Regions from separate parts of the Homo sapiens genome. Here region 1 is linked to region 2. The links come from fine-mapping of genetic effects on gene expression. A gene starts in region 2. The other region holds a variant in brackets. All regions are shown on one strand. Distances are between the middles of the regions.

The links. PIP is the estimated chance that this variant, and not a neighbour inherited with it, causes the effect.
Region 1: its variant is fine-mapped to the expression of VIPR2 in whole blood (INTERVAL, PIP above 0.99).

Annotation. Positions count from the first base shown.
Region 1 is chr7:159,102,943-159,118,482 of GRCh38, reverse strand. It overlaps VIPR2 (vasoactive intestinal peptide receptor 2), which reads left to right. Exons shown (of 13, transcript NM_003382.5): 3 at 8,564-8,671; 4 at 14,629-14,726. Among named protein-coding and RNA genes, the nearest start is that of VIPR2, 34 kb to the left of the region's middle. RefSeq lists an enhancer at 5,060-5,735. The variant TA/A (reference allele first, on the strand shown) is at 7,849.
Region 2 is chr7:159,137,213-159,152,752 of GRCh38, reverse strand. It overlaps VIPR2 (vasoactive intestinal peptide receptor 2), which reads left to right and starts at 7,886. Exons shown (of 13, transcript NM_003382.5): 1 at 7,886-8,032; 2 at 10,208-10,307. The coding sequence starts at 7,982. RefSeq lists an enhancer at 4,889-6,088.

The DNA.
Region 1 (15,540 bases), 34 kb after region 2:
GTGGGATGCTGAGCACGCTGTTCTCCCGCCTTGGTCTTGCTCATCAGGACCTGTGTTTTAAGCTCGTTCCCTGAGATGGACCAGGCTGACTGCTTTCACATGCAGCTCCTTGAGACACAGAAAATGGTCTCCAGCAGCACACTCCATCACAACCAGGCAATCGGAATTCCTCCTGCAGGTCTTTTCCTCGTGGCTATCTCCAGGAAGAATCCTGTTACCGTTTGGGGCAGAAGCGGCGAGGATTGCAGAGAACTCAACCACTCAGACATGCGGCTGGGAAGGTATTTAAACACCCACCTTCGGAAGGAGTGGTCACAGGGGCTTCAGCAGCCCCCCAGCAGGAAGAGAGTGGCTCATCCTTCAGCCCGTTATTTGCTGTGCAAGGGGAGTATTCGATGACTGGGACGCCCCCGGCCTCTCTGAGCTCCCCGTGAGAACCAGCTGGGACTTCCTGCTCTGCCCAGATTCTGGAGGAAGCTTTGTTGTTGTCACTTGAGACATAAGTCAAGCTTTCTTGAGTGGAGGATGCGATTGGAAATATTTGCTTCTAAATGCGTTGGAGGCAAGCTGTCATCCGAGCCGATGGCCAGTCTCAGGAGGCTTTGCTTCTCAGCTTTCCTTTTCCCACTCGCTGGTTCCTAGAGCTGTTCCCCAGCCCTGTCTGGATGAAGCAGCTTCAGCCCTCATGCCCCTCCTCCAAGTCCTGCTGACACTTGGTCACTGATGACAGCAGCAGGGTGGCTTCCCATGACTCGGGCCTCCTGGGCCACCCACCCTCAGCTGCCACTCTCTGTGGAGTTGCATGTGGGGTAGGGGCAGGTGACTCTGAAGATGGAAGGAGGGTGTGGGGGAACCATGGGAAGATCTAGGGCACCACCTCCCAGAGCTGCCCATTGTCCAAAGAGAGCATGAGCTGCGTGGCAAGCATGGTGCAGGTGACAACTGGAGTTGCACCCATCTGTGTCCATGACTCAGGTCAGCAGGTGCAGCCCCACCTCTGAGATGACGTCCTGCATTGCCTTTGTGTGGTGCGGCACTATGTTTCATGTGCTCACTGTTATCCTGTCTGTTCACAGGCCATACAAAGGGATTCATCCTCATTCACGCCGGAGGTTTAAAGAGGATCCTGGACCCACATACCTACCCATTGGCTCCATGACCAGTGCTTTTATAATTACAAAATCATTGAGAAATTAAGTCACAGGAAGCCTCGTGTGTGGTATACACTGGTGATAAAGCAAGTCCCATGCAGTCTGAGATGGCAAGGGACCTTCTAGGGAAAGGGCAGTGACCCAGAAGCCCGACTGCTCGGCTGGCTCCCGCACTCCGTCCTGTGGTCAGAGTGTGTTTCCTCCCCTCTGTGAACCTGGTCTCCTCCCCAGTGTGAGGACAGGGGCTCTCGCCTTCTTCAGGGAGTTGCTGGGAGGACAAAATGGAGTATATGTAAAAGTCATTTCCTAGATAAGGGGGAGCATGTCGTAAGAGTCTCTTGAAATTTAATTGATGTTTATGTCATTGACATTGAAATAATGAGAAAATAAATCCAAATCCAGAGCTCAAAGTAACACCTATAACGTCATCTGTAAGAGCCAGGACTTCCTAGGGAGTCTCTGGACAGAAGGCAGCGTCTTTTATACGGTAGGATTGCAGGTTCCTGTAGGTTCCTCCCCACTCTGTGCGCACTCCCCTTTGGCTGGAAGGTGTCACATAATTGAGTTACTGCTGTGTTCCTCAGAATTCCACCTGGAGGAATTCCCAGCATACCGGTAAGAACTTGTTCAAGCAGCAGCCTTTCCCAAACCCTGTGTATTCCGTTGAAAATGCTGTGAAGCCTCAGAAATGTCGGAAGGCTGCACCATCACAGGGTCCGTTTTTCTGAACGACTTAGTCTACAGTGTCTTTTTCAGGAGACTAAGCTGATTTTCAAGCAAAAATTAGGAAGCCACCACTGCCAGTCTACATTGAAAAGTCACTCATTGCCTGGAAGCTTCCAGCCCCCTGACCAGCCCCTGTGACTGACCACCGGTCACTGCCCACTCTGCCCACTTGCTTTCCCAAATGCACTGACCATGCGGGCACTGACCATGCCGGTGCCAACCCACTGCAGTGCCCTCTGGAGGGCCCATGTGACTCTGCTCTGCCAGCTGTTTGCTTCCCAGGAAGATTTGCTCCTGGTTATGTGTGGCTATGGCACAAATCTCCTGAAACTTGGCTTCAAAATTAGTAGTTGGCTCCTCCCAAGGCTCTGAGGTTGGCCCAAAAGGTTCTGCCCACGTCACCCAAGCTGTTCCTTTCCTACATTCAGCAGGTGCCTAAGCCTTCTCCCTGCAGCCTTTCCGACCAGGGCTCCCACCAACTGCTCCAGCCCTTCCGTGATGACCACCTTCCAGAAGGAAGAGCCTGTCAGTCCGAGGGGTCAGCACAGGTCACGGGGCCACATAGCAGGGTGGGGACAAGACCCCATGTCCAATGGGTGGAGCTCACAGCAGCCCTGGGAGACCTTGCTGTTCACAAACAAATCGATGCCTCACACCTGCTGCCTGACTACTTAGCTAAACGCAGCCTAAGCTGGTATATGAAAGGAAGCACGTGGCCCCAGGAAGCTGACTTGAGTGCTTAGGAAAGACTAGAAGCAGCAACGGAATCGGAGGTGAGAAGGGCAGCTAGAGGGCGTGGGGCAGCTCGGACACCAGCTTTGCCAGCCTGAGTTCCTCCATTCCCAGCACCCTGACCTTGGAGGCTGCAGGCAGCACGTCAGGGGCGTGATCTGAAAAGGCCAAGGGACGACCCAGCCAGCAAGCCTGAGCTCAGGGGCTTTGGTGACACATTCTAAGCACTAGTGGTGACACACCTTGCTGTGTTCTAATTAAGGTGAGACGTCCAAAGCAGACAGATTGAAGTCCTGTTTCAGCCAGGCTTGCCTGCCAAGCCCTGACCATGACTTTGGGTGAGAGGCTGCTGAGATCAGAGGAGGCTCCTTCTCTACCCCTCTGCCAAGTTTTGAAAGAGGAAGATTGGGGTGATAAGTGAAACAACTTTATCATTTATATTGATTCAAAGGTATTTTGGATTATTTACATGGGACATTTTAGCCGAAGAACAATGACCCAGAGAAGCGGCTCCTCTGAGCTTCTGCCTCGGTGTGCGAGCCAAAGGGTTTCATTGCTCTTTTCTCTCTCTTTTTGCTTCTTGATTTGTGAGACAGGTTTGCTGGGTTTATGTTGCATTTGTCTAACTCTGACCCTAGACAGTGCTGTCGAGTAGAATTTCCCATGGTAGTGGAAATGCTGGTGTGATGGCTACCAGCCAAGTTCCACTGCGGAGCATTCAAATGCGGCGGCTGCAACTGAGGAACCAAACCTTTAACTGCATCTCCTTTTAATTAGCTTTCATTTAAATGGCCATGTGAGGCTAGTGGTTGCCATATAGAAAGTACAGTTCTAGGGTTTTTTCTCTACTTTTTACCAATTTATACCTCTTAGTTCTTCTTTCATCTGCTGTTTTAGCTGCAACTTATGACACATTGTTGAATAATAATGAATTGCAGGTACCCAACCTGGCTCCTCAGTTGTACAATTCTGTTTAAACATGTCTAATACTTGCTCTTTCTCTTTTTCTTCCCTCCCCGCTCCCTCCCTCCCTCCCTTCTTCCTTCCTTTCTCTCTCCCTCTCTCTCTTTCTATTCTTTCTTTCCTCTTTTTTTTCTTTGAGACAGGGCCTCACTCAGTCACCCGGGCTTGACTCAAGCTCCTGGGCTCAAGCAATCCTCCTACCTCAGCCTCCTGGGTGGCTGGGACTGCAGGTACTTACCACAGTGCCTGGCTTAATGCTTGCTATTTTTAACAAATATTCTCTGTGATGTTAAGGGAGTCTCATTATTTTACTATTTTATTTAGGGTTTTAAAAAATTAGAAATGGCCACTGAATTTTACCAAGTAACTTTTCAGAGTCTATTGATACATTTTCCACTTTTCAGAGCGACCTTTGATTTTATGATCACCATCTGGAAAACCTAGGTTGCCACCAGAGCTTAACAAGTCCCATTTCCCTGACTGCCTTATCCGAGCACTTTTGTTTGTTTCTCACTCCATCTGCAAATCCTTTGTTTCATGAAATCTCAGCTGCCCACTGCTTTCCAAACAGACAGGCGTCTCCAAGTGGCTGTGCTTCTCTCGGGGGTGGCCCTGCCTGCCTCCCCTTCTCCTCCCATGCCGTCCTGTGCCTCGGCGCACACTCCTACAGAAGGACTTGCTGCCTCTCCCAAATTCGCTGCCTCTCCCAAAGGGTTCACTGTGCCAAATTTGAATCACTTATGTCCAACACTGAACTGATGACCTATTCATGCACTATTTTGCTTTGGCCTGCACAATGTTCCTTAAAAATGTAAACATTTAAAAATGGGTATCTTAATATAATGATACACTTTAAATGCTAGTTTTCAACAGAGTGCATTTATAAAATTGTAAAAGGCAAATGATACTACAAGGCTGTATGAAGATAATAGTCTCCGGCCCCTCGTCATCCCCAGTTCTCAGCCCTATGGCAGCATCTCTTTCATCTCTTCTCTGGTATTTATTTTATTTCTAAACAGCATACTTATGCTCCTGTTTCTTTTCTTTCTTCCTCCCAATTTACATCCCAGTGTCCATTAGATTTCTAACAAGAATAAAGATCTATCTCTCCTGTGCCATTCCCACCACCCAAGTATAATTTATCATCCTGCCAGCCTCCTGATAGACTCACTTCACATTGCTGGTGTACATCATTGCCATCACAGTTGAGCCACATAATATCCAGCATTTCCTTTCTTCATAACTTTATGCTTTTCCTCGTTTTTCTGTTGCTGGGTTTTTCACCTACCTCTCAATAATTAGGCATCAAACCTCAGGCCAGAACACTCTCAAGACACTGCACTGAGGTGGTCTCAGGGTTCCATTTTTTCTCTTGTAGCAGGACGAGCTGCAGACAAAACCCCTCAGACACCGAGATGGTGAAGGGAGTGGCTTTAATCAGCTGGAAGCATTGGCAGACTAGCGTCTTAAAATCCGAGCTTGTCAGGTGCACAATTTTTGTCCCTTTTAAGGGCTCACAACGCTAAGGGTTTCACATGAAAGGGTCATGATTGATTGAGCAAGCCAGGGGGTATGTGACAGGGGCTGCATGCACGGGTGGTCAGAGTGAAACAGAACAGACCGGGAAGTTTCACAGTGTCTTTCTATACAATGTCTGCAATCTATAGATAACATCAGTTGCTAGGTCAGGGGTCAAATTTTAACTACCAGGCTTAGGTCAGGCAGGTCCAGGCCTGGTGTCGGGTCTGGTTCCTAGGCGCTGGGCTACCTGCCTTTAGTTTCGCTTCTGTTTCCTTTTCTGAGTATAAAACAATCTAAAACAATGTGAGAGGGTCTGTCTCTCTTCTCTCACTCCTAGAGCCACTCCTTCTGGATTCCCCCTCCTTGCCAAGTCGGGATCCTTGAGCTGGGGTCTGGCCCCAGGCAGGCATTGTGAGCCTCCTGCTCACACAGTCGGGGTCCTCGGTTGGGGATCTGGCCCCAGGAAGGCGCCATGAGCCTCCTCCTCACGGTCAGGATCCGGTCCCAAGTAGGTCCCGTGAGTCTCCTCCTCACAGTCAGGGTCGGTCCCAGGTAGGCGCCGTGAGCCTCCTCTTCACAGTCGGGGCTCTCAGCCGGGTCCCGTCCCAGGCAGGCGCCATGAGCCTCCTTCTCACAGTCAGGGTCGGTCCCAGGTAGGCGCCGTGAGTCTCCTCCTCACAGTCAGGGTCGGTCCCAGGTAGGCGCCGTGAGCCGCCTCCTCACAGTCGGGGCTCTCGGCCGGGTCCCGTCGGTTCCCTGCAGCGTCCTCCACCCTTGCCGGTGCCGGGGGTACCGATGGCCTGTCTCTCGCTTCTCCCCCTCCTCTGCCTGCCTATTTAACACAGTTGCTTCTGTCTGCAAGGCTGTAGTGACATCTCTTGGTGCTGCCCTTTCAAATTTTTGGCTGTCCTTTGCGTGAGGTTGAGAAGCTGAGAGAGAAACTCCTGTGTTCCCGCCTGGCAGCTGTTGCCAGGAGGTTGCAGCCAGTGCCACGTGTGCGACCGGCACTGTGGCAGCGCTTCCGGCTGCGCCTTCGGCTGCACTTCCGGCTGCTACCTCAGCCTCGGCGCCCTGACGCCCTCGAGTCCGCTTCCTCACATCCTGACAGCGTCTAGCTCTGCTCCCTCACGTGCGGTCCAATAAAGGAACAAATGAAGAGAAGACTTTCCCTGGCCATTGAAGGGATCAGATGATTAGCTCTAGATGTTTAAATCAAATCCTACTGTAATGCAAAGACTGTTTGATGTGGTATGAATTTAGTATCTCTGTTGAAATTTAAAGCAGCAATTAGTATTATACAGTATATAATTATTGCATTATAATTTGTATTATGTATTAGTTATCTTACTATACATTATCTTATTTATTGTTTATTTATTGAGACGAGGTCTCGCTCTGTCGCCCGGGCTGGAGTGCGGTGCCATGATCTTTACTAACTGCAACCTCGACCTCCCAGGCTCAAGTGATCCTCCCACCTCAGCCTCCCTAGTAGCTGGGACTATAGGCATGCTCTGTTACCTCCAGCGAATTTTTAAATATTTTCTGTAGAGATGGGGTCTCGCTATGTTGCCCACGCTGGTCTTGAAGTCTTGGGCTCAAGGGATTATCCCGCCTCAGCCTGCCAAAGTGTTGAGATTACAAACATGAGTCACTACACCCAGCCCATTATTTTAAAATAACAATATTATATAATTATTGCTTTTTTTTTTTGAGACGGAATCTTGCTCTGTCACCCAGGCTGGAATGCAGTGATGCGATCTCGGCTCACTGCAACCTCCACCTTCTGGGTTCAAGCAATTCTCCTCCCTTAGCCTCCTGAGTAGCTGGGATTACAGGTGTGTACCACCACACCCGGCTAATTTTTGTATTTTTAGTAGAGACGGGGTTTCACCATGTTGGCCAGGCTGTTCTCACACTCCTGACCTCAAATGATCCACCAACCTCATCCTCCCAAAGCGCTGGGATTACAGGTGTGAGCCACCACACCCAGCCATTACTATTATCAAGGTAGAAATTTGTCATTTTGTGATAAAAAGCTGAACCTTCAAAATAACCAGACACGAAACTGCCAGAGCTTGCTGTTTTATAGGAGATGGACAGAACTTTGCTGATCACATGCAGAGTCTTCACTTGGAGGCCTAGACATCTTCACTTTCCTCTCCATCTTGTTCACTCTTGGCTAGGAACCCCATCCTGACACCTCTCCACCACCTGCCCTACACACCAGAGTTAGAAGTGCTTGGTTTACGAACTTAGCATTTAAATAACTCTACTACTTAGACTCTAAGCAGCCTTACACGGGGGCTCACGCCTGGAGTTTCTAGTGATGCATTTACATTTGATCACTTGTTTTGAACATTTTAAAAGAAAACCAACATTTTCTTTAAATATGTTAACATTAATGTAATATGAATTTATGTACTTATTCAAGTATTGGTATGTAATTTTATTTTATAATAAATATATTTTCACTTTTATTGAAAGTATTTAGAAACTATTTTCATCTGCAAAACTTAGCTTATGGCCAGCTTTTCAGAGACATTTCTGTATTCTTGAAAGTAAAACACTCCTTTGTTCACACCAAAGCTGTGTGTTCTCTATGGATGTATTCCTGCAATTATTGCACAGGTCTGGGTGGCATGTGCTGAAAGGAAAACTGATTGTTTGTTTGTTTGTTTGTTTGTTTGTTTGTTTTACCGACCAAGGCTAGCACATTGCTTTTCTGATACTGAGGTTTAAGTAAAAGGTAAAATTT[TA/A]GAGGTCTCAAATATAGTATAAATACCATGGACAAGTAGGAAAGTCCTGGGTTTAACATGCATTCCATCACTGTTGTGTGATATTGAGAATTCATTAAAAGATTTGAACCTTAGTGCTTTTCATCTGGAAGATAATTAATGCAACATTTTTATATCTAACCTTCACCAGGTGGTTATTAAGACCAAATAGTAGGTCTAAAAATGTTTAAGCTATGCATTATGCAAATTATTTGACAACTCCATGAAGGTAACCTAAGATTTTGTTGCTAATAAGGCATCTTGACAGTGAAAAATCAAACAAATATTATCAAATACTTTTATTTGCAAATAATCATTGAAGTCAGATTCCACAGAAGCACAAGCACACTTTCCCTGGGCGTCTCCCTCCCCGACGGGGCCTTACACTAATACCCAGTGGTGCCCATTTCATCACACTAGGAAATGCTGATCACAAGAAGTAAGTAATGATTCTCTTAAAATTCAGAAGGTACATGGTATACATTGAAGTACTCAAATGCTTTCTACCACCATATGGTTATTCCTCCAAAGCTAATTGAGATGAACCCACAAGCTAACTATAGTCTCAATAATTGTGTTGGTGCAAGTGTGTTTCACAGGAAAGGAGTTTGCGAGGCAGTTATCTCATTAATGGGGTTTCTATTTGTGACACTTCTGTCACCTTGCACCTGCCTCACTCTGCTTCTCTCCTTCCAGCCTGCAGTGGCGTCTGGGACAACATCACGTGCTGGCGGCCTGCCAATGTGGGAGAGACCGTCACGGTGCCCTGCCCAAAAGTCTTCAGCAATTTTTACAGCAAAGCAGGTACTGTCCGTCGGTTGAGTTCCTGAGCTCCTCCAGGGTGTTTGCATCTGAGCGTCCATTTTTTCCATCCAAGAAGCAGGAACATCACTTTCCTTCAGGCATCTCCTGCTACCCTGGGGGTCAGGGAACAGCTGTGGCATATTGGGGTGAGTGCCCGTCTTAGGGAGCAGAAGGGCATCACCTGCCTTCAGCCAAACCCCAGAGAGCAGGGCAACTACAGGGAAAGAACCAGGGGAGACAGGAGCCAAATGGGAACCAAAGCACGGGAAACGTGCATGAGAGGGGAGGGGAGGCAAGGGGGCCCTAAAGGAGGCTCCCCTCCTCCCACTGAGTCGGCCTGTGAGCCCCAGAGAGCACACTCTGGAAGTTTCTGGGAAGTGGGAAGTGTGGCACCCAGAGCCTCCATGCTCAGGGCAGAGGCCCCAGGACACACCTAGTTTATCGAACCCACTCCCCCAACCTCCCTGCCGCCTCACAGGTTTGATGCTGCCTGGAATTTGCAGTTTCTCTGGGCTTCCAGGCTCCTCCTCTGCACCCAGGGCATGCTCCGTATGCGGTGCTGCCAATATCTCTTGGCTGAATCCTGAGAGAAAGGTTTTGTTTGTTTTTGTGAGTGATTCAGATTTTCATAGTGTGAAGAAATCTATTCAGAAAAATAGAAAACATAGGAAACATCTGGAAACAGAAAGCATAATACTTTGGAGCACTATGGAGAATTTACTTTTATCTTGGACAGAGGTTAAAGGGTAAAGACTTTGGGAAGTAATAATGCTGTAGTGTTTTAAAGCAGAGTTTTGGAAAAGAGATTGGGACAGAGGAGAAGGAGATTCCGAAAGGAAGATTTTGACTTTCTCACCCCGAGTTGCCAGCAAAGCAGCCTGAAGGTAGGGACCATGCTTGCATTACCATCACTGCCCACCCCTGAGTTAGAACCTAAGTCACTTTAGAGAACCTGAACTTTAAGAACTGTTCCCTCCAATCAGTAGCATTTCTACTGAGCAGCTTGGGCTGCATCCATTCTCCTGGAGATCTGGAGGGAATTGGCATGGACTCTGGCTTTTCCTAGTCGATGGCATGGTTCTGAGGCTTCCAGAAAGCACCCAGCAGCCTGGTAGTTTGCACATTAGCAAGCACCAGAATCCAGTCCAGCCTCTGCCAGACAGAAGCCATCTGGGCACCAGGCGCCCAGGTCAGTGAGGCTCTGGCCCTGCCTGGAAGCATCCTGCTGCTGCCTGTGAGAATGAAAACTCCCAGTTGGCTTTGGGTTAAATGCTTATTCCACCTTTTTCCCAAGCAGGGAGCATGACACCACCTTGTTATTGTGAGGAAACTTGTGGTGTTTCCCCAAGTCTGGGCACTTGAGTAGTCGCAGCTAGATGATCTGAAATGCAGGGGAAATATGCTTCTGCTTTTTCAACTGATCACAAAAACGTGAGCTATGCGAGGACATGCACAAACTGTGGACAGATGGTCCCCATGGAATGTCCGCATGGAATTCATCTTTGGGGCATTAAATGGGCATCCTTTGCAAATACTTAGAGAGATGTGGATGCGACTGGGGGCCGAGCAGGGCTGGGGTGAAGCCACCTGGCATCGTACCACAGAAGCTGAGGCTTCAGAGACTAAATTTGGTGGGATAACTGTAGAGTCTTAGAAAGAAATGAAAGTCAGGCTTGCGTCTGCATGGTGCTCTGTGGTCTACAGAACACTCTACACATGTGATGGCTGCTCCTCCCATGACCTGTAAGGAGAGCTGGGTCATAGAACACACGTGGAATCATTTCTGCCCACAAACCCAGGTGTTCCAGAAATAAGTCACCATTCTAATGAAACATTGTGTTCTCTTTTGATTTCTCATCCTTCCAGCAGGTGGGAGGTTTGGGGGCTGTCTGTCCTATGCTAGGCAGGTGGCCTCTGGGCATCATCACGTGTGTCCGGCACTGTGCATCATCACAGTGACCAGCACACTGGCGCCCTGTGTCTCTGTGCCAGGCGGGACCCTGGGCCCTGTCCAGAAGCAGTGGGCAGCTCCTTCTCCAGGTCCTAACCCCTGCCCTGCAGCAGCTCCAGAAGCAGTGGGCAGCTCCTTCCCCGGGTCCTAACCCTGCCCTGCAGCAGTTCCAGAAGCAGCGGGCAGCTCCTTCAGGTCCTAACCCTGCCCTGCAGCGGTTCCAGAAGCAGCGGGCAGCTCCTTCCCCAGGTCCTAACCCTGCCCTGCAGCAGTGGGACCCGGGATGCAAGTCCTCTTCCCACCCGGGCTGGACTTCACCACTGCTGCTTGGGGAAAGCTGTGAGGATTAGGTGCTTCAGACATTTCCTGCCCCCATCCCCTCCAGGAGGCAATGAGCCAACTGTCTGCATAGAGGGGAACAAAGGAAGCAGGGAGCCAGGGTGAGAGGCACGAGGACTCATCACTGGGAGGACAGCCTTCTGTGAGCAGCTGCTGTTCATGCCCCATGCTCAGGGGCCAGGAGGCAGCTCCGACAGCTGTGTGCTGACCTTTCTCCCTTGACTTGCTTTCTGTGTTTCCAGTTGCTCCTGGTGCCCACCTGCCAATTCTGCATGGCACTGTTTTAGCCAGACCCAGGGCAGCAGCTCAGCCGCCCATCCAGCACAGGTGTAGGGCCAGGTGTGGTTCTGATCCTTTAAAGGGGCATCAGCACATCCCCCAGTGGAGGATGATGTAGGCTCATGGGGCTTGGAATAGTCGCTGAGAAGCACTGAAGCCCTAAGGGAGGCCTTCAAGTATTCGTCATCCTGCAAGTGGGCGAGAGTGTGCTCCCACCCCCCACAACCTTTCTCTGCACCTCCCTGGCCTCTCTGCCCCTGGATGGCCTCTCTCTGCACCTCCCTGGCCTCTCTCTGTACCTCCCTGATCTCTCTGCACCTCCCTGGCCTCTTTCTGCACCTCCCTGGCCTCTTTCTGCACCTCCCTGATCTCTCTGCCCCTCCCTGGCCTCTGTGTGCCTCCCTGGCCTCTCTCTGCATCTCCCCGGCCTCTCTCTGTACCTCCCCGGCCTCTCTCTCTACCTCCCCGGCCTCTCTGCCCCTACCCAGCCTCTCTCTGCCCCTCCCTGGCCTCTCTCTGCCCTTCCCTGGCCTCTCTGCCCCTCCCTGGCCTCTCTGCCCCTCCCTGGCCTCTCTGCCCCTCCCTGGCCTCTCTCTGCCCCTCCCTGGCCTTTCTGCCCCTTCCCGGCCTCTCTCAGCACCTACCTGGCCTCTCTGTGCCCCTCCCTGGCCTCTCTCTGCCCCTCCCTGGCCTCTCTCTGCCCCTCCTTGGCCTCTCTCTGCCCCTCCTTGGCCTCTCTCTGCCCCTCCCCGGCCTCTCTCTGCCCCTTCCTGGCCTCTCTCTGCCCCTCCCTGGCCTCTCTGCCCCTCCCTGGCCTCTCTCTGCCCCTCCCTGGTCTCTCTGTACCTCCCTGATCTCTCTGCAGGTTGCCACCTCAGTCATTTCCTGTCCTTCCACATCTGCCCCATGTGTCTCAGGAGTGAGAAGTCAGAAAGGATAAAGAACCTGTGAGGGAATCTGCACTTCATAGAATGACTTTCTGACTTAGTTTGTGGAGTTTTATTTCAGCATCTTCTTTGGATTGGTAAACACTGATCTCCCGTAGGAAGGAGAAAAGGCTGCACCTCGCAGAGGATGAGTGACAGGCTCAGCTCCCACCGAGGTCCTGGCTTCCAGGCTCAGGATAGGGGCCTGCAGGTGCCCTGCTCAGGTGAGAGCCAGGCTGTCAGGTGTGGCGCTTGGCCCATCGCTCACCAGTGTGACTTTGGGCAAGTGACACGACTTCCTCAGCCTTGGCCGTCTCATCTCTGAGATTAATTGGAGAGCTGCCTCCTGTGGTGTCAGGATTAACTGGGTTGATGCAAGCACAGAGCCCGGCATTCCTGAGGGCTCAGTGAGTCGTAGTGGCCACTACCACATGACTAGTATTATTATAATAACTATTATGAGTGCTGTTCCTGAGTCTGTGATGGGCACATTATTTATCTTTGTGGACCTGTCTCCTTGTCTGCACAATGGGGCCGTGGGACCAGGTCTCTAGGAGGCTTGCCTGCTTTAGGGCTCTGTTTTGCCTCTACCGTGTATGGGGTCTCTGCAGCTAAGAGGCCCCCAGACCCTGCTGGGGCTCCCTGTGTGAGGTGTGGGCCTTGTAGTCAGAGCCCCTGATTGGTGATGGTGTCGGGGTGCCAGTGGGCAGGGCCAGCCCTGAGGCCTTGCTGAGACCAGTCTCCCACCCCACTCCTCCCCAGTACAGCCAGAGCCTGGCCCGGCCCTCTCTCTGCCTCTCATCACTGCAGGACAAGAATCATGCACGCACCCCACTCAAACTACTGAGTCTTCAAAGCCTTGTTTTCCCCTTCTGTAAAATGGGAACAGCAGCGCCCACCAAGTCTGTCTTGCAGGGTTGTCTTGAAATTAAAAAGTCACGGGAGTGAAAATATTTGCTAAATCCAAAGCCCCAGACCCTTCCAGTCACCCAGGCAGGGAGACAGGGGCTCCGCTCTGGCTGTGCCAGGAGTGCATGGAGGGGTCCGGCCTCCTGGGCTCTGCTGTGGGGGTGACCCTAACACCATGCAGCCATGCTCGGGGCAAGGCTGGCACGGCGTTCAGTGCCTGGTTTTATTCTTACGGCTCGGACACCTTCGAGAGCTTTATCACTTACTGTTCTGTGTGGCCATCTGCTAAGGACACACACAAATACAAGGAACATTGAATTTCTGAGCTTACATATGATTTTAGTTCCGTAGGCGCAAAAGATGAGATTGTAAGGGAACAACTGCCTTGGTTTCCTACAATTAAACTGTAATTCCGCCATCCTTTCTTCCAACACCAGTGGCCAAATGGAGCCTGCCCTACTGGGTCACGGTTGGTGATGAGGGCCTGGCCAGGAGGAGGGAAGGTGCTGTCAGGAACTGGGGCAGGCCAGGCACCAGGTCACCGTTGGTGGTGAGGGCCTGGCCAGGAGGAGGGAGGATACTGTCAGGAACTGGGGCAGGCCGGGCACCCGGTCACCATCGGTGGCAAGGGTGCTGGCTGGGAGGAGAGAGGGTGCTGTCAGGAACTGGGTGGGGCACCCAGTCACCGTCGGTGGTGAGGGCCTGGCTGGAAGGAGGGAGGGTGCTGTCAGGAGGAGGGAGGGTGTTGCTGGGAGGAGGGAGGGTGCTGTCGGGAGGAGGGAGAGTGCTGCCAGGAACTGGAGCAGGTGGGGTACCCGGTCACCATCGGTGGTGAGGGCCTGGCTGGGAGGAGGGAGGGCATTGCTGGGAGGAGGGAGGGTGCTGCCAGGAGGAGGTAGGGTGCTGTCAGGAACTGGACTGGGCACCTGGTCACCATCAGTGGCAAGGGTGCTGGCCAGGAGGAGGGAGGGTGCTGTCGGGAACTGGAGCAGGCGGGACACCTGGTCACTGTCGTGCTGTTGGGAACTGGAGCAGTGGGGCATCTGGTCACCGTCAGTGGCGAGGGTGCTGGCCGGGAGGAGGGAGGGTGCTGCCCAGAACTGGAGCAGGCGGGGTACCCGGTCACTGTCGGTGGTGAGGGCCTGGCCGGGAGGAGGGAGGGTGCTGTCAGGAACTGGGGCAGGCTGGGCTCCTGGCTCCAGGATGGCCAGGGCTTGGCTATAAATATCACTTATGGTGGCAGAACCTAAGAGTCTGTTAAGAATTTTCATTCTGCCCCAAAAGAACTACACTTACAGTTGCGGTAATTATGACTTATGACACAGTGCGTTCACTCACATCTCAGGACCCACCGGCCCCGAGAGGTGACCTGCTGTCCAGGTCACATGGACTAGGAGGGCAAGGAAGGTTTTTTGAGTGGCAGTCCTGTCTCCTAGCTGACCCCTGGGTGTGGGAAGCATTTTAATAGAGCACGGGCTCAGCACGGACTAAGGTCCCTTCTAAGGCCAGTTTTCATGGACTTGCAGATAAAATATCTGAACTTCACTTTCCAGGAAACATAAGCAAAAACTGTACGAGTGACGGATGGTCAGAGACGTTCCCAGATTTCGTCGATGCCTGTGGCTACAGCGACCCGGAGGATGAGAGCAAGGTAGGCTCCTGCGTGGTGCTACGGTGGTGAGGTTCCACTTCCTAACACTGCACCAGAAGCCCCCTCCTGCCCTGCAAGAATTATGTAGATTTTTCCCCTAAATAATCCTCTGAGTACCAATGCTACTTTCTGCTTTCCAAGTTAAGCGAAGTCCCTGTTTCCGTTCTGCTGCTGGCACTTGGGATTGTTTGATTGTTCCGTCATTTTGCAGGCAGGGAAAGGCCGGTTTTCTTGACCTGCTGTGTATGTGTCTGGGAGATGGTGAGGAGAACCTGAGAGTGGCCCCGCCTGCCCGAAAGTTACTTTTCAGATGAGTCCTGGAGAGCATGCCCTTTCTGCATTTGGATTTCTTGTCCCATTTAAGATTTTGCCACATTCTGGGGCATTGAGAAGTCAGCGCCATGGTTTCCTGAGCCCTGAGCCTGCAGCAGGAGATGTGATCACAATTAGGGTGTCTTTTCAACTAAGAGACCCAGCTTGTCCTCCGCCAAGAGGTGTCTGGGAGCAGGGGTCCCAGGATGAGTTGGGGACCCCCCAATCCGGGCTGCACAAACTTGCTGCAGTGATCTGGAGCTCTTGGGTGTTATGTCCACTGTGAACCCTTCTGCAGGGCTGTGATCTTTCAGTAATGAGGATGTTTCTCCCGAGTGTGGGATGTGTGGCCTTAAGCTCTGCTCTGGTCCATCCGTGCAAACTTCCCCAGCTCTGCCTCAGACAGCTGCTTCTCCTGAGGGCTCACTCTGTGCTACGTCTGCCTGTGGTTTATCACCAGACAGACCTCCATCCTTGCCGGCAGCCCTGGCAGCACCGTGTG
Region 2 (15,540 bases):
CCCCTGGACGGAGAATTTCACCATGGGACCCCTGGACGGAGAATTACACCATGGGACCCCTGGACGGAGAATTACACCATGGGACCGCTCGATGGAGAATTACACCATGGGACCCCTGGACGGAGAATTACACCATGGGACCCCTGGACGGAGAATTACACCATGGGACCCCTGGACGGAGAATTACACCATGGGACCCCTGGACGGAGAATTACACCATGGGACCCCTGGACGGAGAATTACACCATGGGACCCCTGGACGGAGAATTACACCATGGGACCCCTGGACGGAGAATTTCACCATGGGACCCCTGGACGGAGAATTACACCATGGGACCCCTGGACGGAGAATTTCACCATGGGACCCCTGGACGGAGAATTACACCATGGGACCGCTCGATGGAGAATTATACCATGGGACCCCTGGACGGAGAATTACACCATGGGACCCCTGGACGGAGAATTTCACCATGGGACCCCTGGACGGAGAATTACACCATGGGACCGCTGGATGGAGAATTACACCATGGGACCCCAGGACGGAGAATTACACCATGGGACCCCTGGACGGAGAATTACACCATGGGACCCCTGGCTCTCGGGCCTTTGGACTGAATTGCACCACCAGCCTCCCTGGTGCTCCAGCTTGCAGAGGGCACATCACCGGACATCACAGTCTCCGTAATTCTGTGAGCCGGTTTAGGCCCCCAATAATCCCCCTCTCACATACCCATATCTACATCATGTCCTGTTGGTTCTGTCTCTCTGGAGAACTCTGACTAATATAGGGTGTGTGGCTTTTCCTAAAAGGTTCTGCTAGTCCCCAAGTGTCAGTCCCTACGAGACAGGAAGTTATTCAGAGTTCCTAGTACCTGGCTTGGGGCTTGGCACATTGCACATGCTCTAAAATAGGTAGCTATTTAACACATTTACTATAAATAGAGATTATAGAAAAAGTGGAAAGAAAATGTATTTCCACAGGTATGCATCGTTCTGTTAAAGACTTCAGAAGTAACATCAGCTTTCACAAAATTGAGCTTCATTGAAAGTAAAGTCACAGAAAAATTCTGAGGTTGACAAATTTACCCTGAGAATCTCTATCCCCGGCCCCCCTTTTTTGTGGCTCATTCACCCCTCATTTCCTCACACTCCTGTCCTCTGCTCTCCAATGTAAAGAGTTCCCCTCCGCAGTGGCATCTGTGCTTAAACGCTGACCGCAGCCCTAGGCTAGAAGCTCCAACTGTGATTATGGAATTCCAGACACATCCCTGGAGTCTGAAAGGACTGAGGGTTGGGGGTGAGCAGGGCCAGCCATGAGGTCAGCTGGGCCCACAGCCTTTGGAAGAGACAGGGTCCCCACTGCCAGAGGTGGCTGGGCTCAGGGTCTAAGCCAGACCTCAGCTCTGCGTGGCGGAGCATTCACGGCCTCCCTGTCAGAGAGCAGTTTCCTCCTGGCTTTCCTAGAACCGGGCTATTACAAATGTCCCTGGTCTTGGCAATTTTCAGACAGCGACTTTCCTGGAAAAGTCATCTTTTGATGAGTGAGCTGTCACTGTAATACCTTTTTCCTTCAGATGAGGAGCTGATCCTTGGAGTAAGGACAGAATCCCACGGCACAGCCGAGACACAGCTGTGGCCACAGGAGTGCTCCTGATCCCAGGTGTGCCAACATTCCAGGGCTTCTGTCTTCCAAAGATGAAAAAGAAGAAACTATAAGGGGTTTTATTTCCGGTTTTGAGAGCATAGGAGGCAAAACGCCTCATAATGTCAGTTTATTTTGTTAAAGACTCCAAGTGAATATGAAAATGAAGCTAAATTCAGTTTTTAAATGTCACCCTAGTTTGCCTTTGCGGGTTCTGGGGGTCACTGAAATAGTCTACCAGCCCTTCAACTGGTTCCCCTTACAAATGAGGAGATTTGTGTCCGGAGAGATCAGAAAATGCTTCCAGGTAGAGCCGGCACACCTGGGCCTCTGGGTGCCCAGGGCTCTTGATTGCCACAGGGTTGAAAATAAAAGAGAAGACCCTGCTCCTCAGGACGCCAGCAAGGGAGACGTTAATCAGCCACTGTCAGCGTTATGCCTTGGGAAAGCATGGCTTAGTAATTGGCAGCAAATAACACTTTGAAAACTCTTATATTGAGGGAATATCTCCATCCCGTCACCCTCATCTGTCTGTCCCCATCCTCTTCCAAAGGGCATTCAGAACTGGGGAGAGGACCTAGCAAAATAGGTTAGAAAATGGGAAAAAAGATTAAGAACAAAAAATCAGTATTTTAATGAAAATACGAGGACAAAGTTCTTGATATTGTAAAAACTCTGGTTTTGTGTGTAAAAATAGTAACTGAGAACAATTAGGCATAGAAAATGCCTCACTTTCATGTGATGCTTTAATTACTCCCAGGAGAACATTATTAATTATTTAAAGGACCACTTGAGTCATTAATTATCCTTCCCTATTCATTTCTAAGCAAATTTTTAAATTTAGTCTCATTCACCAATTTACTCCCCAATGAGATTTCTATTTCTGCTTCACACGCAGCTAAAAATAGTTCCCTCTTTTGTTCCTTTAATGTTGTTTGTTTTCTTCTCTTCTCCCTAAAAAGCCACTTGGAAAGGTGGCATGGCCGTCAAACCAGACCCTGCTTCTCTCTGAACTCCAGGACCCTCTGGCCTGGAATCGCTGGCCTCCCGGCCTGCAGGGTCCCCCGTCACTCCCAGGACCCTCCTTTCACCCCCTCTCCCCTTCTCCATGCTCCCTGGATCCCCCACACCCTCGGAATTTTGGACAAGTGATAAATGCATGACCGATGCCTACCGATGATGACCAGGGAGGCTCAGCTGACAGCTTTCTCCCTCCTCCCACCAGGCCCCACCCGGGCCTCATCTCTCAAAAAGGAAAGTCCTGGTTTACCAATTCACCCACAAATGTTAGCGATTTAGCACCTCTTGCTTCTCCTTTGAAAGGGAATCAGAGAGGAGAGCATAACCCAGAAAGTGAGGACGCCCTGGCGAGGGGAAGGGTCTGGAGGGCAGCCCCACTGACCTGCTCCCTGCCTGTGGAGCCGAAGCGTGGGCTCTGGGCTGGGCTTGAGGGCGAGTGCTCAGGGTGGGGCCCTGCTGTCCTGGCAGCCGCTGGCTGAACCCTCCAGACTGGAGTGAGTGGAACCAGGAGTAACTCATACATCTGCCCACTTGCTCATCAACAAACAGGGAACACCTGCTGTACAAACCCACAATGCTGGGCATTCACTGGAGGGGCAGACATCAAATAATCTCTCTAAATATTGTATCCTATCGCATCATATTATATTAAGCTAAGAATAGTTCTCCAAGAAAGTGGCAACACCTCCTTGTAAAGGGAAGTTTAAAGAACTCTGAGCCTGGTTGGTCTGAGAAATTGGAGGATGGCAACAGTCAGGGCCCCAGGAGAGGAGAAAGAGACACCTCCTGGAAGAACTGGTCAGAAGCAGAAGGGAGAGGCTGGTGGCCTGTCTCTGTGAGCCCCACCTGCCTGGGGTGGGAGGGGGCCCGGGCAGGGCTATGGCATGCGCTGGTGTGTGCCTGCCTGGGGTGGGAGGGGGACCCGGGCAGGCTGCGGCACGCACTGGTGTGTGCCCGTCTCTTGGACAAACCATCTGAGATGTTCTTCCAGCTGCTCTGCCTCCATCGCTGAGCCTCCTGCTGAGCTGAGTAGGGTCCCCGGCTGGCCTGGCACTAAACTCTGCTTAGATATGTCCAAGGGTCTCTGCTTTTGCCCCAGCGAGGAAAGGCAGGATGCTTCTCCAGACTGGGAGGGCTTTCCTAAGGCAGACACCTGAGCCAAGACAGGTGGAAGCTGGGAGGCATGTGCCTGGGGTGGAGGGTGCCTGGGGCGGAGCGTGCCTGGGGCTTCCAGAGATCAGCAAGGCTGAGGCATGAGAGGCAGAGTGGAGGCTGCGAGACGGGTCCAGGAGGAGACTCAGGCCCAGATCAGGTGTGGCCTCGCATGTAGGGTGACCATGTGCTTCACATAATATGTCCAAACCAGGACATTTCCAAGAATAGGGGGACACGAGTAACGGTTACGCTGGGGCAATGGGCAAAGCCAGGCCAGGCCCAGCATGGCAGGTGGTTGCCTGTTCAAAGGTGTAAACCAAAATGTATTTGAGGCAGGTCTCAATCAACTTAGAGGTTGATTTTTGCCAAGGTTAAGGACATGGCCCAGGGCACAGCCTCAGGAGGTCCCAAGAACACACACCCAAGGTGACAGGGTATAGCTTGGTTTTATACATTTTAGGGAGACTGAAGTTACAAGAAAAGACATAAAGCAATATCTGGAAGGTATACATTGATTTGGCCCAGAAAGGTGGGACATCTTGAAGCGGGGTGTGGGGCCTTCCAGGTCACAGGTGGATTACAGGATTTCCTGATTGGCCGTTGGGTAAAACAGAGTTAAGATCTGCCTGAAGACTTGATATCAGCTTGAGTGAAAATAAAGGGGGTTGTGGAAGCCAAGGTTCTTGTGGATGAAGCCTCCGGCTAGCAGGCTTCAGAGAGAGTGAATGTGAATGTCTACTATCAGGGCCTTGAAAGGTGTCAGACTCTCCAGAAAGACCTAGTGACGGACAGGGATTCTCCACAGAGTGCAAGATTCCCCAACAGACAGCTTTGCTGGGCCATTTCAAAATCTGTCAAAGAAATATATTTCTTCAGGGCCTGCTGGCCGTCATGTGATGCTCTACTAGAGTCTGGTGGGAATTTGCTATCTTATTGCTATGAACAGTCTGTTTGGTCAGCCTTAGGAGCTCTGTTTTTATGTTAATGTTGGTCATGAACTCCAGGAAAGGAGGGTGTAGTGAGGCCTGCCCAACCCCCTCTCCCTGTCATGGCCTGAACTCGTTTTTCAGGTTTCTTTGGGATCCCTTTGGCCAAGAGGGGAGTCCATTAAGTTGGTTGGGGGGCTTAGAATTTTATCTTTTGTTTACAAAGGCATATTGAGAACTTTGGTCATTTTTCTAAGAGCATCAGGTAACCGCAGGGTTTGGGGTGTTCAGCAAAGCCCGTGATTACACACACACTGGACCTTCAGAGAAGTGTGCCATCTAGCTACGACCACAGCCATTTCTCCTGGTCTACCCCGTCCATCGGGACGCACTGCTGCAGGGGAAGACTCACCCATCATGCAACCCCTCACTGCACCCTGGACAGTCACTTCTAAAATGCAGGCCCTCAACAAGGTATTGACGTGTGCATTAATCACCTTGATTATTACAGAGCCCCTCTGCGGTGGAAGGGCAGGTGCTGTCATTCCTACAAATGCATAGAGCTCAAAGTTCATCGCTCACCCAGGTGGAACCGGGAGAAAAAGATGCGTTTGTCGAAGGCACCCAGCGCCACGAGCTTTCTTCACAAGCCAAGCAGCCCGCCTAAGGCCCAGGTCTCCCTCTCCTCGTCTCCCACTAGATACACATGGATGAAGCCAGATAGATAACAGGTAGAGGATAGATGACAGGCAGATGACAGATAGGCAGATGATAGATGATCGATAGATGACAGGCAGATGATGGATGACAGGCAGATCACAGATATGATAGATCACAGATAGATGACAAATAGGCAGATGATAGATGACAGGCAGATGACAGATAGGCAGATGATAGATGACTGATAGATGACAGGCAGATCACAGATATGATAGATCACAGATAGATGACAAATAGGCAGATGATAGATGACAGGCAGATGACAGATAGGCAGATGATAGATGACTGATAGATGACAGGCAGATCACAGATATGATAGATCACAGATAGATGACAAATAGGCAGATGATAGATGACTGATAGATGACAGGCAGATCACAGATATGATAGATCACAGATAGATGATAAATAGGCAGATGATAGATGACAGGCAGATGACAGATAGGCAGATGATAGACTGATAGATGACAGGCAGATGACAGATAGGCAGATGATAGATTGATAGATGACAGGCAGATGACAGATAGGCAGATGATAGGTGATTGATAGATGCCAGCCAGATGACAGATAGGCAGATGATAGGTGATTGATAGATGACAGCCAGGTAGATCACAGATATGCCGGATCACAGATGATGGATAGGCAGATGATAGATGACAGATAATAGATGATAGATTACAGATAGACGATCGATAGGAAGATAATAGATGATAGGTACATGACAGATCATAGATAAATGACAGAGAGGTAGATGATAGATGATAAATAGGTAGATGGTAGGTAATAGATAGGTAATAGATCGCAGAGAGATGATAGGTAGATGATAGCTGATTGATACATGATACAGAGATGATAGGTACATGATAGATGGATAGATCATAAATGACAGCAGATGATAGATGATAAATAGGTAGATGACAGGTTATAGATAGGTAAATTACAGATGAAAGATAGGCAAATGATAGATGATAGGTACATAATAGATGGATAGATCATAGATAATAGATGACAGGTAGGTGATAGAGGAAAGGTGGATGATAGATGATAGGCGCATGATGATAGATACCTGACAGATGGATAGATGAAAGGTAGATGATGGACAGGTAGATGATAGATGACAGATAATAGATGACAGATTACAGATAGATGATCGATAGGAAGATGATAGATGATAGGTACATGACAGATCGATAGATGATACGTAGATGATGGATAGGTAGATGATAGATAATGTGGATGATAAACATCAGATGATAGAAAAATCGATATCTGTGAATACGGGGGGTGGGGGATCAGAGAGAAGCAAATGATAAGCCCAATGAGGTAAATGTTAATGACCGAATCCACAAAAAGGATAAAAAGGAGTTATTTGTAATATTCTTATTCTTCTAATTTTTGTGTAAGTTTGAAATTATTTCCAAATAAAAAATTAAAACAACACGAACTTAACTTGTATCTCTCATTCCAGTGCTTTCCACTTGCTGGGGAACGCCGAGCTCTCCTGGGTTGGTCACGCGGGCGCCTTGGGAGGCCGCGCAGTCCCGCGTGGGGCGCGGCGGGGCGGCCCCAGTGGCACCGCGTGAGTCCCCGCCCAGCGTTCCCCACCCGCCGCCGCGTTTGCGGGGAGAGAATGACCCCCGTTTTGCAAACGCAGGACACAAAACCCGCCACCCAGCTGAGGCTGGGACCCACCTATACCCCCGTCTGCGTTTTTCTCCAGCTTTCTGTTCGACCTGATGTCCTCTTTGAGGCTGCGGGGATCCCCACCAAAAAGCACTCTGATTTTCTCCATTTTCAGATGCCCCAACCTAGCCCCACTGGCTACAAAGACGGCGCGCCCACCCCGGACGGGTCTCTGGCCGCTTTCTTGGGCTTCCGCAGTTGTTTAGAAAGGCAGGTACAGGCGGCCGCAAAGGCATCCGCCCCTTCCGAGCGCACACCTGGCCCGGTCCTCCTCTCCCGGCCCCGCGCCGGCCGCTCTCCCCCAGTTCTCTCTACTCGGAGCCGGGCGCGCACTGAGCACCCCGCTTCCCAGCCCCTCCGCCCACAGATCGGGGAGGCGCGGCCGGGAGGGGGGCGTGGGCCAGGGAAGAGGGGAGGAGAACGGAGAGAGAGGCTGGGGGGGTCGAGGAGACCAGAGGGAGCGCGCGCGGCGGGGACAGAGAGCCCAGGGGCGAGGAGAGGGCGCGGGGCGCAGCGGAAGGGGAAGTGGGGGGCGGTGAGGAGGGGCGCGGAGCGGGGGTTCTCGGGGGAGGAGGGAGACGAGGATTGGGGCAGCGCGGGGCGGGGACAGGGGCGGGGGGCGGAGCGGCGGGGCGCGTGGGGGACGGGCGTGCATTGAGCGCGCTCCAGCTGCCGGGACGGAGGGGGCGGCCCCCGCGCTCGGGCGCTCGGCTACAGCTGCGGGGCCCGAGGTCTCCGCGCACTCGCTCCCGGCCCATGCTGGAGGCGGCGGAACCGCGGGGACCTAGGACGGAGGCGGCGGGCGCTGGGCGGCCCCCGGCACGCTGAGCTCGGGATGCGGACGCTGCTGCCTCCCGCGCTGCTGACCTGCTGGCTGCTCGCCCCCGTGAGTGCGCCCGCGACCCCCGCCCCACGGCGCCTCGGACCCGGTTCTCCCCTTCCGAGAAGAGCGCTCCTCCCGCCGGTCTTCGCCTTCCTCCCGGGTGCTGGAGCGCGGGCGGGGTCCGGGAGAGGGAGCGGGGTCGCCCGGGGTCCGGAGCTTCCTCCCGGAGAGCGTGAAGCGCTGAGCTCCGGTCCCGCCGGGTTGCGGGACTCGGGTTGGGAGGCTGCCTGCGCCCTTCCCCGCGCCCCACCGTCCGGGGTTTGCTGGAAACGGGATCGTTTCTTCCTGGACGCGTCAACGATGAGCTCGTTCGGGGCCGTCCCGGGAGCTGGGAGCTGCGGGCGCCTGCGCGGGCTGCGCGTTTCACGGGGAGATCGGGGTTGGCGTTGGCCGCAGATGCCTCTCGGTCCCTCCCTGTACTTACTGGTTAGTTTTAGTGTCGGGGGGACGTGGCGTCGGTTAAATAAAGTTTCCTTTTGGAAATAGTTGCTTTTTCCCAAGGGCACTGGAGGAACTAACTGCTCATAAGTTTGTTGATTAAGTGCCTTCGCACATGGAGTTCTGAATTATTCCCTCTGTGAACCTTAAAAAAAAAGGAAAGAAAAAAGAAAGAAAAAAACCCGAGCCTTGTTTCTTGCTTTCCTCTTGGAGACTGAAGCGGGTTTGCGGTGCGCGCGGTTTTCGTGCGCGTCGCAGCCGAGGCAGGTCTGGATCGATCCGCGGCCCCTCCGCAGCTGGGAGGCTGCGCTGCTGACCCGACAGTGTCATTGATTAACCGGCGACGCCCGGTCTGCAGCGGGGCTCGAGCCACACTCCCTGGCCTTGCGCGGAGGCGCAGCTCGGCTTTCCTCCCTCGAGGGTGGGCGCTTTGCGGAGCGGGTCCTTGGAAAGTAACGGGTTTTATCACGGTTAATGCTGCTTTCATTGCTAAAATGTCCTAAAAGAAGTCATTGCTGTGCATATTCCAGGAACGTCAGGTATTATTAATGTCTTTTACACTTTAACAAAGTTTTTCTTTTTACATCAATATAATTTCCTTAATTCTGAAATTTAAGCCACTTACTTGTCCTGCATGAAAACAGAGGACTTGGAGCCCAAAGTCAGTGCCTGGTGCTGGTTCAGTCACGAGCAAGAAGCAAGCTCGGGGCTCTTTTAAATGGGGCTGAAGGTGGCAGAAGTTCCAGCATTGTTTTCCCCTTAATTCTGTTAGGATATTGTGTTCCTGGTTGGAACTCTCATTGACCATTTCAATAGTAAGATAACTAAACATAGATGGCCATAGTACGCCCAACAGTATGATTCTCTTTAGTTACTACTTTAGTACAAGTAGAATTTTGGTCGGTGGTGGGGGAGGGGGAAGATCAAGACCAAAAGGATGGGTGGGGGGAGCCCTCCTTAAGCCCCCAAGGGCCGCTTGGCAGGCCTGTGCTGACTTCGCGGAGGGCGTGAAGAACAAGGTAGAAACGGTGCCTTCTGAGAGGAAGCATTGTGTAGTTCTGCCTTCTTCTCACATTAGTAGACTGTTAATTACTATCTTTGTGGCACCTTTCGCTCCCCTGATGGATCCTGACTGGAAATCGCCCCCTCTTCTCTGTGGGGCCACAATGGTGTGATTCCCCCACCTCTGCCTCCCTCCTCATCTTGCTGATTTCTTTGAATATCTCTTCCACCCCAAATTCTAGTCAAAACGATTGCAGTTTTATCTGTAGTTAGAGGGTTAAGCTTTGAACATGTACCAACACCTTTAAAAATAAAGCCCTTCTATCACGGCTCTTTCCCGGGTGGAGGCCGTCCTCGGAGGAAGCGGCACAGTCCACAGGCATCCGCTTAAACCAAACCAAAGGGTGTGAAACGGAGGAGCCGGGTATGGAGAGATGAATGGAGTAAAGAGCTCTGTTGCCTCCAAATTAGTACCGATGTATTCTGTTAGTAAGTTCATTTTCCTGCTCAGAAAAAAAATTCTATTAGATTTTGTGTTTGTTTTATAATACCTTTACAAAGTAAATAGTGAAGTTTTTAAAAAATGCCAGAAAAATCAAGGTGATTGGTTTTAAATGCATTTTGGTTTGGAAGCAGTTTAAAGCTGTGAGGTTTGGGGTTGTTTTTGTAGAATTTTTGCTTGCTTTTCTTCTTCTTGTGGAATTTTTAGTTATTAATATTTCTTTTAACCGTGAACAGGTGAACAGCATTCACCCAGAATGCCGATTTCATCTGGAAATACAGGAGGAAGAAACAAAATGTGCAGAGCTTCTGAGGTCTCAAACAGAAAAACACAAAGGTAAGGCAGAGGCTTGGTGAGTAAGAACTCCCGTGACATTCTCACCCGGGAATGCGCCTCACTCAGCTGTGGTTCAGGGTCACCACCTGCATCTTAAAAAAAAAAAAAGAAAAAGAAAGGCCACTTCCCATTGTTTGTTAATGAACTACTGGTAAAACTCAGAGAGAGTTGGATAGGTAGGGTCTTCACACACACCTTTAAAAAGATAACCTTAATCCTTAGCAGTAACAGTTTCCATGGTTTGAGATGATAGCAACAGTTACTAAAACAATTTCATGGGCTTTGTTATGCTTTGCAAAAGCAGCTTCAGTTTTCCAGGGGATAAGCATTTATCTGAATTCTTGCATTTTAAATTCTTAGCTATAGGACAGATGATTTTGATCTGGTTAAGGATGGTGGGTACTTGGCAGAAAGCAAACAGGAAAATGGGACTTTGGTTGTGCTGAAGACGGGCCTGCGGTGAACACTGTGAACGTGCAGATCGCCTTCTCCGGTTTGACAGAGGCATGCTGGGCCATCATGCTCCAACAGGGCCTGCTATCAACCTGTTTATAGACTCTGCCCTGGGATAGCACCCGGCCTATAAATAGTAGCAAGGCCTTTGTCCCTCAGCTTTCTCTGCTCTTTGTCATGATTTTCTCCTCTTCAAGAAAGAAATTAAATCTGTGTTAAAACAGTCTGTTGTCCTGTAGAGGGCCTCAGATGGTGGGCTTTATTCAAGAATAGCCCTGCCCAGCAGCAACAGAATGCAAGCCACATTACAATGAGTAAAAAGAAGCATGAGAGATTAATTTTAATAGTATCCTTTATTTACCTGAATAAATCTGAATCGTTAACATTTCAACGTATAATCAACCTGAAGTTATTAATTTTGCATTCTTATTTGATGCTAAGTTGTAGAAGTCCAGTGTGTTTTTTGTGCTTACAGCACGACACAGTTTGGGCCCCATTTCAAGGTCCAGTAGCCACAGGCGGCCAGCGGTCTCCACGCTGGACAATGGGCTGTAGATTGTCACTAAAACAGGTGTCCCTGCCCGTTCCCATCCCCCTCTGAGCCACCGTTTCTTGGTCTGAAACGTGCAGGCTCTGCCTCCGAGGCTTCTTCCGGCTGTAAAGATCTGCGATTCCGCGGTGCACGCATGGTTCTGGCCCATCTTCCAGATTGTCTGGTTGAACTCTGTCCAGAGAAAGGCAAATAAAGTAACTTGGCTGAAGCCATGCTGAGAGTCTGTCCTGGGAAATGCTGATGCGGCCCAGGAGATGTGGATGGAGGAGGCAGCCAGTCTGCCACGGCAGAAGCAGCAGCGTGGCCATGGGAGGTCCTTCTTCCAGTGAAAGTTCTGAGTTAGGAAAGGTAGTCCTGAGGAGAGACAGGCTTTTAGGGTTGCCCTCCTCACCTCCAAGTTCCAAATTGTCCAGCTTCCTGTTTTCATGGGATATTAGAAATGCAGATTTATATAAAATATTCCACTTTCTTAAAAGTTTGCAAACAATACATTAAAAAAAAAAGATTTTGAGGGAGCCTGGAGCCATCTGATGGCTCTCTGCACGGTAGCTGGACCCTAGCTTAACCTGAGATTGGCGACGCCTCCTGGAACACCCTCACCCAAAGGCAGGTCAGCACATTTACACTATTCACAGGGGCTCCCCCTCAGTGGGCAGTCCGTGTGTGAGTCATATCGGGCGCTAGGGGCCGCAGGTCCCAGGCAGTCACTCAGCCCCACGCCAGCTTGAGCGGGTTCATATGCAGGCCCGAGAGCCCCTCGCAGGCAGCGTTGGTTGGGAAACTTGTCACTCGGCTTTCTTGCAGCGACAAGGTGTCTACCTGGACATCTCATATTGAAGGCTCTTATTTCCAGTGTCAGCTCTGTAGGAAAAATATCTGTATCTGATCTGTTTTACCTTTTTGACTTGCACGAAGTACTTGGTAACAAGACACTGCCCTTCAGGAGAGAAGCAGCAGCATGCCGGGGCCTCAGCCTGGCCACTCTTTTGTTTTTCTGTACTCTTTGAAATATGCGTGGCTCAAATGCCAGGGATGTAAATAGAAGTAAGTTACCAGAATAAAGATGCTATCAGCGATGTGAACCGGAATCTACAGGCTGAGGCTGAGGCAGGCGTCTGATTAGATGGGCTGAGTGACTCCACGAGACAACAGTGTGCATTTGCACCTGACGCCAGGTGAGATGAGATACTGAGGGTCTGTTACAGCCACTTTTAAATCCATACGATTAAGAAATTTGTGTGAAAGAGTGCCAGAAATGAGGTGAAAAAAATCTAGCTTCCAATTCCAATGAGGTAATTTGTGTAAGTCTGATTTGGAAATGTTTCTCTTTATTACATGTTGAATCTAAAAAAAAAACAAAAACAAAAAAACACGTAAATCCAGACAGAAACCAATTTCAATTCTAAGCTCTCTTACGGGATTCTCTTTGTAAGCTTAGGAGTTATTTGGAGCTGTATGACTTAACATCGATGCATCACTAAGACAAGCTTTCTCTTGCCGATATGTGTATGAGGCACTCCCGGCCTCAGAGCCGAGATCCAGCCCTGTTTCCATGGCCCATGCCAACTCGCAGGTGGAAGGCACAGGTCCCTGAGGGGGCTTTGTCCAGGCTTCCTGCCTAGGCACAGGCTGGATAGGAACTTTCGTGTGACTTTATATCATTCTTACACCCGCGTCTGGAGGGGTGTGACCTCCTCTGGGGAGAAGCAGAGGTGGTCTCTATGTGTTCTGGGAGCTCACTGTTCTGAGACATCCTTCAGAGGCGCATGGCTGAAATGGATCTGACTGTGAATGTCAGCTTAGACCAGGCCATGGAAAGTGCTAGGCTTAAAAACTAACTTTTCTTTGATTTTTTTTAAAACAATGGATGCTGAACTAATTTCGATCTACATGTCAGGAACTATGGAGGGTTTGAGGTCATTCCCCACTTGCAGGCTAACAACGTCGCCTGCCACAGTTTTGCAGATGCTGCAGAAGACGTGAGATGCTGGGCCAGAGACAAGAGACTTGCTGTTCACAGCACAGCAGGCATCATGAGCTGCGTGTGCGCACGGGTTCCCTCTGCTTCTCAAGCCCCCCAGGAGCAGTGGGAGCGGCCCCCTCCGATGCAGTGCATTTGTGTTGTAGCTGAGGAGAACTGGCTTAGGAAACCCCCAGTGTCAAAAGGAGGCTGCTGGCAAATCCCCAGCCTTTGTTACAGAGAGAGATGGTATTGTAATTATCTTAATTATCGAACTCTCCTAGGTTGTTTGCTATACAAACATCCTCAGAAAGAAGGATGACTTATGTCAGAGAAACATATTCTCTATCATACTTGGGGGAATGAACTCCTAAAGCAAGGACTGGTGGCTGCTGAGTAGGATGGAAATGTGCTTCCTTTCCTGTCCCACAGCATCCTGTGACTTTCGTGATCATAACTCACTGTGTGATTTCTTGGTCCTTCTCCTCCAGTGCCCAGAGGAGATGGCATCATGTTTCTGCTGCTTCTCCCAAGTCTCACACAGAACTTAGCATCTAGAGAGATATTTTAAAAGCTTTTGCTGAACAAATTAATGAAAATTCTCACAGTAGAAATTAAGTGATATACATATATATATCTAATATGCACATAGAAAAATTCTGTTCAAAAATGTATATAATGGGAAATGTCTCTACAGACTTCACTGCTGCCAGCCCCAAGTTGCCCCTGGAGAGTTGGGGTGCGCACACGTCCACACGTGGGTAGACCCCGCTTTTCCTTCCAGACACGTGGAAGCTGGCATACTCTTCACACATGTGCTCGGCATCTTGCTTTTCTTTTCTGTTTTGTATTTCAGTGTAACAATGTATTTGGCAACTGTTTTGCATTTGTTCTTATATTCTCTTTAAGAGCTGCTATAGTATTCTAATGTGTTTCTTTAGTCTCTCCCAGGTCCATGGACTTTTAGGTAGCCGACAGTATTTTGCTACTACAAACAATGTTCTAGTGACCGTTTTGTTGGTGGGAATAAAATATTTCACCAGCATTTGAGGGTTAACTTCAAGCCACTCATATAAAATGGGAATCACCATCTCCTATGACCAAATGACACTATTTTAGCCCACTTTCTCATTCCTGTGTCGGTTGTGTCATGTGGGATATGGTTAATCACAACCCATTTTACACCTAACCCCTTCTTGCTTGTTTCTCTTTGTCAGAGGAAACCAGACAGTGTCCACAAATGGGTTCTTGCTCACAGCGTCATGTGGGCACTGACCCTCCTCGGAGGGTCCAAGGCCCTGTGTGGCTGCAGCATTCCACCTCGCTCTGTGGTCTCGGCTCAGCTGCCCTGCGATGCTGCCCTCTGCTGCGGGAGCTGGAGCTCTGGTGGGAGCTCGCTGTTCGTGGTCCTCAGCAGATATTCAAGGCAGACCTGTTCTAAGAAACTAAATGAATAATCACTGTGTTATGCTCCAGAAGGTCTGAACCGAGCAGTTTTGGCATCCACGGCAGAGAGCAGAGAAGTAGGTTCCTCTGATGTCAATATTGATGGTGTAGACGTCAGTTGTATCTTAAAAGGTGCCTATATCTTTCCTTTTCATTTTCTTTCTGATATAAGTAGGTCCTTGTTCTAGTCCAAATAACTTTTTGGACTGATGAGATAAACAGCCTGGTCACTTTTTTCTTTTGGATCTTTTTGACTAGATTTCTTCCATTTTCTAAACTCTTTAAGGTCATTTCCTCGTCTTGGATATTTAAATAATTAATAACTGTTTATTGGTTGGGACAGTCTTAAAGTAATGTCTTTATGCCTGGTGCAATGGGCTCATGCCTGTAACCCCAGCACTTTGGGAGATCGAGGCAGGAGGGTAACTTGAAGGCAGGAGTTCAAGACAAGCCTGATTAACATAGCAAGACACCAAAAAAACTTTTTAACTTAACCTGGTGTGGTGACACACACCTATAGTCCCAGCTTCTCAGGAGGCTGAGGCAGGAGGATTGCTTGAGCCCAGTTCAAGGCTGCAGTGAGCCATGATGGCACCACTGCACTCCAGCCTGGACAACACAGACAACAGAGCAAGAAGCTGTCTCTATTTTTTTTTAAAGTAATGTCTTTATATTTACTTTTTATAGGAAACAAATCTCACTGAATTAATTTTTACCCTGAATAAAATGCTTAAGAATCATAAAGGGAATTATGGTTGAGAAGTCAGTTTCTGGCAGGTGAAGGAGTGGGCCACTCAGAAGTGCACTAATGGCTTCTCCTG